2 separate regions of the Homo sapiens genome follow, and region 1 is linked to region 2. A link means that fine-mapping ties the variant in region 2 to the expression of a gene that starts in the linked region. Tissue or cell type: whole blood. Region 2 holds a variant in brackets; the other region holds the start of a gene. All regions are shown on one strand. Distances are from middle to middle. Region 1 holds the start of FAM185A (family with sequence similarity 185 member A). Region 2 overlaps FAM185A (family with sequence similarity 185 member A).

Region 1 (5,384 bases), 45 kb after region 2:
GAAGTAATTTTTTAAAAATGGGAACAACTTTGAAAAAGCTAATATATACTATTAAAACTACAAGATTAGGCCATGAGCAGTGGCTCATGCCTGTAATACCAGCACTTTGGGAGGCCGAGGAAGGAGGATTGCTTGAAGCCCAGGAGTTCAAGACCAGCCTGGACAATGTAGCAAAACTCCATTTCTACAAAAAAACAAAAACATTAGCCGGGCATGGTAGCATGCACCTGTAGTCCCAGCTACTCAGGAGGTGGAGGCGAGAAGATTGCTTAAAACCGTGAAGTCAAGACTGCAGTGGGCCATGATTGTGCACCTGTACTCCAGCCTGCGTGGCAGAGTGAGTGAGATGCAGTCTCAAAAAAAACCAAAACAAACAAACAAAAAACCCCACAAGATTGTGGACAAATGGCAGTGGTATATGAAGCAAGTTTGGAAAATAAGGAATTACAAATGCCATCCTTGGCTGTCTATTTAAGATGTAACTGCAGGCATCTCTGTATACAAATTTTAAAAATTAAAAACGCTGATATTTAATTTGGAATTAACATAAATATTGATGATTTCTCTTAAAGTAGGCAAGACCCGCCCCCCCACTTGATTCCTGAAACCACAAATAGTACCAAATCCTATATATTCTATGTTTTTTCCTGTATACATATCAATGATCAAGTTTAATTTATAAACTAGGCATAGTAAGAGATGAACAATAATAACAAATACAGCAATTATAACAATATACTGTAATAAAAGTTATATTACTGTGATCTGTCAAAATATCTTAATATTTTCCTACAACAGCTGAGGCAGGTAACAAACTGAGACAGCCAAACGGTGGATAAGGGAGGACTACGGCATCTACTATTTGGGCAACTCTAAGCATTATAAAAGATGATCTTAAAAATGCTAAATGCTATTATTATTACTATCATCATCATCATCAATATCTTCCATCAGTCCCAGGAAGAATGACAGTCTGGGGAGCCCTTCCTAGAAAAGTGTGTGTACACAGTGGCTTGCCATTTAGGAAAAGCTAAGAAAGGTATCTTGCAGGCATTATTATTGAAGCTTCCTAGGCAGGCTTACCATGTGTTTTTCTTCAAAGCTTGCTACTCATGGAAAACTTAGGCCAAAAAGAATGGAAATATAACAGTAAGAAGCTGGGCGCCCGTCTAAAACCAAATACTCAAACCAGGTGATACCCGGAACATCCTATTGACAGGGCTGTTTTGGGACAGACCCCCAGGCTGTGAGCAAGATGAAATGTAGATGGACTGCCATACCATTGAATGAATTGTCAAGAAACTTCAACCTTGAAAAATAAGCCAGTTTGCTAATGACAACGGGATAAAGGAGAACACAAGCGGCTCCAGAAATAGAATTTGACCTGGATTATACCAAATCATGTTTCCATTCGATGTATAAAATTTCTATAATTGGGAACCTAATTTTTAAATACTACTCGGACACTCAAGAACAGAACAGAGGAAAAGGTGCATTTCCGAAGGGGCCAACTGTAAATTAGGTTTAGAGAGCCAGGACCAATTAAAAGTGCACGTCGACCACATTTATTAAGTTCACTGTGCGTTCCCTGGGACCCAAACCCGTTTTCACTTCACTTCACTTGCCAAACTTCAGGGGCGCGTTCACCTCCACGGACGCCTGGGGGTGGATAGTATCAGACACAATGGCCATCTCCTCCAGATCCTCGTCGTACTTCACCTGCAGGCCGTCCAGGCCCCGCACGCCGCCCTCCACGCCGCACACCGCGACCAGCACGCGGTCGCCATCCGGGTAGGTGAGGGGGTCCAGGGGCCTCACGGCCAGGTGGCACGGGAGCCGCGCCCGCAGCCGACCAAACGGGCTCACCTGCAGTGTCCACTCCTTCAGAGTTCGGCGCCCCGGGCCAGGCGGAGGGACCTCAGTCTCCGATCCGGGCCAGCGCTCGCTCCCACCTGAGCTGTACGGCCTGGCTTGGCAAGCCCAGCAAGCCCAGCGCCCAGCGCCAGCCCACAGTCGGACCTGACGGAGACAGAGACGGAAGCAGCCAAGCTCCCAACCTGAGCAGGGGGCAAGCATGGCGCGCCTCTCTCGCCAGTCCTCAGAACACTTCAGCCACAGGGAGGGTCACTTGCCACGGCCAATCGACTTGGCCACTGTGCCGCCTCAAGTCAAATAGGAGACGTAAGTCAGGGTTTGCTGAAACAAGAGCGAGCCGGTTGGCTTGACTAGGCGTTCTAAACATCAGCCGCGCAATCCCCAGGGGCAAGTTGGGATTTGAAAGCTCTAAACTCTGACCTGGACCCCTTGCCTAAGTCCACCCCCTTTCGCTAAGGCCGACGGGATAGGTAGTTCTAAGTCGCAGAGCTCTGCCTCTTAGAAACCACATTTCCCAGGAGGCAATGCGCAGGGGAGCACGGGTAAGAGGGTAGGTGTTAGAATCGCTGGAAAGGCGGGCGCCCTTTGTCTCAAGACCATTGGCTATTGGAGGGGCGGTACATGGGAGTCCACTGGCCAATGGGAAGCACGGAAGGGGCAACGCGGGTAAAGCTGCGTGGTCACCTTGGATACCAAGCACGCGACTTCTTGGTTGGAGAGGGTGGAGCTTTGGAGTGAGACCCAGGACGCCAAATCCCAAAGAGAAAAATAGGAGCCTAAATAAGGATCAGGACCAAGGGAAGGGGTAAGAAACTGCGCTTTTTAAGATGACAACTAGGTGCAAACTAGGAGTAACCTCTGTGGATGTCAACATCCAAGCTTCACTAACTTAGTGAGGGCATCTCCAGGGCATGGAGAATGCCTTGGTAAGAAAGTAAAGAGCAAGATTGGTGCTTTTTGAGGGAATTGCCTCTTTGGAAGTGTATTCCCTCCTATATTCCAAATATAGGAATAGAGTACTTGCTCCGTCCTGACCCTAAGTGACCTTACTTTGGGTTTTAATTTGCTCACTTTAAAAATGTAGATAATAATACCTTCCTTGCCTTGCCTCAAAGGGTTTTTGTAAGGATCAAGTAAGAAAATGGATGGGACCGTGGTGCACAGTCTACAAAATTACCGTGTAAAGAACTGTATTTTTATTTCAACGTACTTAACATTGATTCTGAGTTACCAAGAAAATTATGAGAGATCAGAACTTGTTTTGAGAATAGCATTGATCTCTTTGACTACAAATGATCCTCAGTTTTAGAGTGAAAAAAAAAAAAAAGACACAAAAAAGAGAGTCACCATGGTGCGGTGGAAAGAGCAGGGACAAGGGTCAGGTTATTTTCCTGGCTCTGCCACTGCTTCATCTGTGTCACCTAGACCTGTTTCTTTAGTTTTAAAATGAAGAAAGATGGTTCTAAATGACCCTATAAGGGGTGTGTGTGTGTGTGTGTGTGTGTGTGTGTGTGTGTTTACCTTTTATAATTCTATAGGCAGTAAAATAATGGGAACAGAAAGATTTATTTTCTTCTTTTTTCTTTTTTTCTTCTTTCCTGCCTGGTTTCTCTCTCCCCCTCTGTGCCCCTACTTCCTCCTAAAATGTATTCCCTAAATTATTTAGCCAAGACACCTGCAAACACTAACATTTCATAAAATGCAAGTGCCTTAAAAAATAGAAGCCCTTACCCAAGTACAATGACCAGAATTCTTGGGGCTATCGTGATAGATAGACTGGGCTAAAGTTCTCATGGGTACAAGTCTCAGGTTCTCTGCTAGCCACTACCTTTTTAAAATTTTTAAAAATTCAGTGTTCTCTTAAGTTATCATTGCCTCTTTTCTGTCCTTCTAGTCCTTCCTCCCTCCTTATTCTTTTGGTGAAGACTCACTCATTATAGGTGCTAGCTCAGGTTCAGCAAGGGCCCACTGCAATAGTTCTTTTCTTGTCTTTGTGTTTCATTGGTTATAATTATTCAGAATAATCTTCAAACTATTTTTTATGAAAATTGAGAGGTGTAACTTTGAAAAGAAATTTGAAAAAGGCACTGGTTTAAGGAAGTTGAGAAGGTACTCAAATTTTCTGTAGAAACACTAGACATTTTTAGATTAAATATTAATTCTAATAGTTAATTCTGTGTCTATGGTAATTTTTCCTTTTCTGAGACAAACTAAGTTAATGGAATTGGCAACTGAACTATAATTTTCTATGTTGCATGATCATTATTTTACTTTTTCAAATAAAAACCAAATAGAATTGACTGAAAATTTACTTTGCTGATCATACAATGTTGAAAATGGAGAAAATTATTAATATTAAGATTGGCATAAAATATTTAAAGTTATAGACACTTAAAAACAGTATAATGAGTATCAAATCTGTCCACATATCAACAGTGATTAATAAAAGTTGTATCTTCCATCCATATGACATTATAATTGTCAAACCATGTTCACATGCGTCATCTCAATGTATCCTCACTAATTAGGAGGGAAATTATTCTCCTCACACTATAGATGAGGATTCAGATTCAGAAACATTAAGATTAAGCAATTAGAAGGTCTGGCCCTTTTATCACTCTACCAAAACGTCCATTTTCCTGACACCTTTGAAGAAAAAATGAAATTATTCACCTCATAAGTAGAAAATTATATACAACTTTTTTCTCCTTATTTAGAGTTTGTTTCTAAGATATTTTCACATCTTAGTTTTAAAAAGCTATTTCCGTGGTCATGAACATATACTTCTGGTAGGAGTGTTAAGTTAGCACAAAATTTTTAGAGTTCAATTCAGCAATAAGAATGAAAAGCTTTTTCTATGACTCAGAAATTGTGCTCTTGGGGATGTAAGCATAAAATTAGGTATGCTCAAGGAATTACGTTTTATAGGGTTACTTGTAAGAGAAAATAATTGCATCAATTTAAATGCTCCCTGGCCAGGTGCAGTGGCTCATGCCTGTAATTTCAGCACTTTGGGAGGCTGAGACGGGTGGATCACCTGAGGTCAGGAGTTCAGGACCAGCCTGGCCAACACGGTGAAACTCCATCTCTGCTAAAAATTAGCTTGGCGTGGTGATGGATGCCTGTAATCCCAGCTACTCAGGAGGCTGAGACAGGAGAATCATTTAAACACAGGAGGTAGAGGTTGCAGTGAGCCGAGATCACACCACTGCACTCCAGCCTGGATGGCAAGACTGAAACTCTGTCTCAAAAAAAAAATGTTAAATGCTCGCAAATAAGACAGTATTACATAAATTAGTATATAGCTGATATATTATGCAACAATTTAAACATTATATCTTGATATGGGAAATAGTCCATATATAAAGTGAAAAGAATATATACAAAATTGCACGTATAGTATGATCTCAATTGTGTAATAATAATAATAAATTTAACATAAAATTATACTTTACAGAAACAATTCCAGAGGGATATGTACCACTTGATAACAGTTGTTATCTTTAAGC
Region 2 (5,384 bases):
AAATTGCTCCTGCGGATAACATCACTATTGTAAAACCTAAGATCAGTGCTTGAGATATTTTGCAGACCCTAAACTCAGTCGATCAGCTGGCATAACCCAGATTGATAAGCTGGCTCATCTGGTCTTGTGGCCCCCAGTCAGGAACTGACTCAACACAAAAGGACAGCTCTGACTCCCTATGATTTCATCTCAGACTGACTAATCAAAACTCCTAACTCACTGGCCCCCTATCAAATTATCCTTAAAAACTCAGATCGTCAGATTCTCAGGGAGACTGATTTAAGTAATAATAAAACTGGTCTCCTGCATAGCCAGCTCTGCGTGAATTTCTCTTTCTCTACTGCAATTCCCGTCTTGATAAGTTGGCTCTTTCTAGGCAGTGGGCAAGGTGAACCTGTTGGGTGGGTTACAACATTGTGAATTTTACTTTGTTGGGTGCTGGATATTTTTGTATTCCTGTAAATCTTGAGCTTCACTCAAGGATGCAGTTAAGTTACTTGGAAATAGTTTAAGCCTTTCATCTCTTGCTTTTATAATTTGTTAGGCAATTATAGAGTGGTGCTCAGCCTAAGACTGATTGTTTCCCACTACTAAATGCTCTACCCAATGCCCCATGAGTTATGATTTTCTTTCCAGTCTGGTGGGAAGAACAGGCATTATTCCTGGACCTGTGTGAGCACCAGGTTCTATTCCCTCTGGTACTTTGTCCTGTGAACCCTGTCTTGATCTTTATCGACTCTCATCTTGATCTCCCTAACTCAGGGAGTGTTCTAGACTCAAGAGCAGTTCCCTTTTCCCGTACTGGAGCCTGGAGACTCTCTCAAGGCAGTAAGCAAGACTCATCTTGTTTGTTTCCTGTATCTGCTTAATTTTTAAATTTTTTTGTCATTGTTTCAGGTGGGAAGGTAAGTCAGACCCTTTAACTCCATCCTGCCCAGAAGACTTCATTATTTTTCTTTCTCCCTCTCCCTGCCTTCTTTCCACCCTCTTTTTTAACTTATTTTGAAATAATTTCATACTGACAAGAAGTTACAAAAACAGTAGAGAGAGGTTCTGTATACCCATCACTCAGTTCCCCTAATGGTGACAGCTTCTATAACTATACTGCACTATCAAAACCAGGAAATTAGCTGGCAAATTAACTGGACTATAGACCTTACTCAGATTTCACCAGTTTTTACATGCATTCATTTTTCGGGTATGTCTTTGTATATACTCATGACATTTTATCTATCACATATATAGATTCATATATAACCATCATTTTAATCAAGATATGGAACTGTTCTGTCACTACAAAGGAAGTCCCTTGTCATGTCCCTTTAAAGTCATACTGTCCTTCTCCTTCCCTAACCTATGGCAACCACTTGTCTATTCTCTACATCTTTAATTTTGTTGTTTCAAGAATGTTATATAAATGGAATCATAGAGTATGGACCATTTTGAGATTGGCTTTTTTCACTCAGAATAATGCCCTTAAATTCCCTTCAAGTTGTTTACATCAACAGATTGTTCCCTTTGTCGGTGAATTACCTTATGTGGACATACCATGAGTCATATGAACATTCAGTCATGGAAGGATATTTAAGTCATTTCCAGTTTTTTGGCTATTACAAATAAAGCTATGAACATTTGTGTACAGGTTTTTGTGTGAACATAAGTTACATTTCCCCAGGATAAATGCCCAGGAATATAAATGCTAGGTGATTAATGGTAGTTTCTTTTTTTTTCTATTTTTTTAAGAAACTGCCAGACTGAGTTATAGAGTAGCTGTATCATTTTACATTCCCACCAGTAATGTAGAAGAGATCCAGTTTCTCTGCACACTTGCCAGCATTTGAATAATCGGTATTTTTAATTTTTGCCATTCTAGTAAGTATGTAGTATTTTATTCTGGTTTTAATGTGCATTTCCCTAATGGCTAGTGATGGTAAATATCTTTTTGTGTATTTTTTTGCCATCATATATCTTCTATGGTTGCACTGTTTCTTAAAAGTTACAAGATTAAACTTTTGTGTGCACGAATCATGTTTTCTTCACTACTGGGGATAGTTCACTTAGGATAAGGATTTGGCTATGGTTTAATATTTCTTGAATGACCAAAATAAATACAAAGACAATAATAAAACAAAACCCCACAGGCATCACAAACAGAACTCATAATGCTCTGAGATTGGGGCCTGCTCTTTGAACTCTAGTCTAGGGATCAGCAAACTATAGCTCACAGGCCAAATCTGGCCAGGGGCCTGTTTTTGTATGCCCTGAAAGCTAAGAAGGGCTTTTACTTTTTTTTTTTTTTTTTTTTTTTTGAGACAGAGTCTCTGTCACCCAGGCTGGAGTCCAGTGGCACGATCTCGGCTCACTGCAATCTCTGCCTCCTGGGTTCAAGCAATTCTCCCTGCCTTAGCCTCCCGAGTAGCTGGGATTTCAGGCACCCGCCACCACGCCCAGCTAATTTTTGTATGTTTAGTAGAGACAGGGTTTCGCCATGTTGGCCAGGCTGGTCTCTAACTCCTGACCTTAGGTGATCCACCCACCTCGGCTTCCCAAAGTGCTGGGATTACAGGCGTGAGCGACCGTGCCCGGCCGGGCTTTTACATTTTTAAAGGGTTATTTAAAAACAAAAAAATATATGCAACAGAGTCCATATGTAATCTGCTAAGTCTAACATATTTACTATATGGTGTTTACAGATAAAGTTTGCAGATGAATGGAAAGAAAACCTGATCTTCTTTTTTGGGGCAAACATTAACAACATTGACATCTGATTACCCATGATACTCTCAAGATCTTATTCTTTAACAAAAAGGTGGGGAAATAAAAACACCATAAAAGCGGCCGGATGCAGTGGCTCACGCCTGTAATCCCAGCACTTTGGGAGGCCGAGGTGGGCGGATCACGAGGTCAGGAGGTGAGACCAGCCTGGCCAATATGGTGAAACCCTGTCTCTACTAAAAATACAAAAATTAGCCGGGCATGGTGGCGGGCGCCTGTAGTCCCAGCTACTCAGGAGGCTGAGGCAGAAGAACCCCTGGAACCCGGGAGGCAGAGGTTGCAGTGAGCCGAGATGGTGCCACTGCACTCCAGCCTGGGTGATAGAGAGAGACTCCGTCTCAAAAAACAACAACAACAACAAAAAAAAA[AC/C]ACCATAAAAGCACTATGACGTGAAAACAGTTCCTACATTAACTCCCTGTCAAAGTATTTTTAAGCAGATACCTATAAGCCTTAGAGCATTCTTCATTCTGTTATTGAATTTCTTCCATCTGGTCCTGAAATATATATACATTGCTGACAAATTCATGTGCTCTAAGCTTTGAAAAACCAAAAACTTTAGTGGGTTCTAAAATCAGAGCTATTTCCAAGAGTTAGTCATATCAAAAGACTGGATTTTTCCCGATTTGGAGAGAAAACAGTGTCTCTAGATTTTTAAAGTGGCATCTTATGAGCTTAGTCCCATTTCAACCTCTTCCAACCCATGAACGAGTATTCCACTATAAATAACAATTCCATTGTATGTTATTACCCTCTGTCCTTTAGACAAGCTAAGAACTCTTTTCTGACTTGGTGGTTTATTTTTATCCCAAATGAATTTATGTTGTATATGCTTTATATTTCCAGTTTTACTAAAATGAGGTAAACCCAGTAGTGCTAGCTTCCCTACTATCCAGACAATGACAAACACCAATCCGTTCACTGGCAACGCACTTTACCTCTAATATTCTTTGAACATTTAAACATCTAAATTGTGGAGTTGTAAAGACCAAAGGACTTTGTACAACATGCATACCTGGGCTTGGAGACTTGATGTTTACCACAGTCAAGTTTCATATCTAAGTTGATGAACCAAGTCTAAAACCTAATAGAGAAGCCAACTTATTAGAAGCATCTTACCTAAGCCACTCACAACATGTTAAATTTGCCACACATGGGTAGAGGACAAAACTTAGAATCAAGACTCTCATGAAGATTATAGAATGCAGCCCCAATACACACTTGTGCATAGCTTTTTAGTAGGTAAATGTTTCAGCCTGAGAGTCTCAGGTTTCCTTTTGACCTCAGAATAGCACATAATACGTGTAAATCATGGTAGGAATTATACACCTGAGTTATTTATCAGTGACAGCAATAGCAAAGGAAACCATGGAGCAGGAAATCAAATAAAATTATAGAGCTGACACATCAAAACCCTGTGGGAAGCTGGAACCTAAGGGAATAATTTTACTGGCATGGCTTCTTGCAGAGATTATCCAGAAGTCATGCTGCAGATAAAATCCAGGCTTTTAGCAATAAGAGTATTTCTATTTTTATCCCTCATGGGCTCTATGAGGAAGGCCAAGATGAGCTGAGCTCAGCTGCCTATAATAATAGCTCACATATAAAGCTGCTCATTATTTCCAAAATTTGGTTTCAGATTGGAAATCTCCACAGAAAAAAGCAATCTGCCCTGATTTTCTAGGCCTCTTAAATTATTTCATCCAGTTGATACATAAGGCCTGTGGCTGACTGGGTACCAAACAGTTTTAAAACCAAAATGAAATATGGAAGTTTCTCTTAAACCCAATCACCTGTTCATACTCACAGCTCCCTCCAGAGACTGCTGCTCTCTTCACCTGAGGTCCATTATTACTTTAATGGATTTAATTTGCTATCAGAGACAACATACAGATCCATCTGGGGACCAACCTCATAGGGTAGTCTGTGCTACTCTGCAAAACGATGCTTGATCAGTACCTAGATTCTTCCACTGTGAACAGGAAATAAACTCATCATTCTGCGATTTGGCCCTTCCTGGTTCAGGAGGTGGGGCCGGAGTATAAGCCATAATAACAAGTAACACACAAAAAGAACTCAATAGGCTAAGGCGCTTCATAATAACCAATGAGGTAAGCATGCATCTTCCTCATAGCATTCATTCGTCTTTATATTCAAGCAAAAGTTACTGAAGGCCTATTTATTTGCTGAGTTTAAGATAGCTCACTATGGAGTCCAGGCCCCTGTACTCCTTCTGCTGAATTACTGCAGTAACCTCCTAAAAAGCAAAAGTTGTTTTTTTCTCCTTCATCCACCATTGTTCTTTCTCATCTATCCCCACTCAACATTCAGAGTGATCTTTCTAACACAAAAATCTGATTATGTGAACCCCAAGTTAAAACCTTCCAAGGGCTTCCCAATGCTCTTAATATAAAATCCAAACTGTCCCATATGATCTGACCTCTCCCAAACTCTCCAGCCTACTTTTATGCCACTTTCCCCTTTACTCTCTATACTTTGGCCATATTTGACTTCTCTCACTTCCTCACCCCTGTGTTCTCACAGTACAATGTACATACGTTTATAACATTGATCCCACTGTACTGTATTCTCTGGTTTGCCTTTCCTCACTA

The links. PIP is the estimated chance that this variant, and not a neighbour inherited with it, causes the effect. A credible set is the group of variants that fine-mapping cannot tell apart.
Region 1: it holds the start of FAM185A, and the variant in region 2 is the best candidate, but not a certain one, in a credible set for the expression of FAM185A in whole blood (TOPMed, PIP 0.66).

The regions. Positions count from the first base shown.
Region 1 is chr7:102,745,900-102,751,283 of GRCh38, reverse strand. FAM185A (family with sequence similarity 185 member A) reads right to left here and starts at 2,285. Exons shown (of 8, transcript NM_001145268.2): 1 at 1,626-2,285. The coding sequence starts at 2,076. It also overlaps the pseudogene RASA4DP. RefSeq lists silencers at 2,296-2,465, 2,506-2,595 and an enhancer at 2,268-2,562.
Region 2 is chr7:102,790,961-102,796,344 of GRCh38, reverse strand. The region is part of intron 7 of FAM185A (family with sequence similarity 185 member A); the gene reads right to left. Among named protein-coding and RNA genes, the nearest start is that of FAM185A, 45 kb to the right of the region's middle. The variant AC/C (reference allele first, on the strand shown) is at 3,144.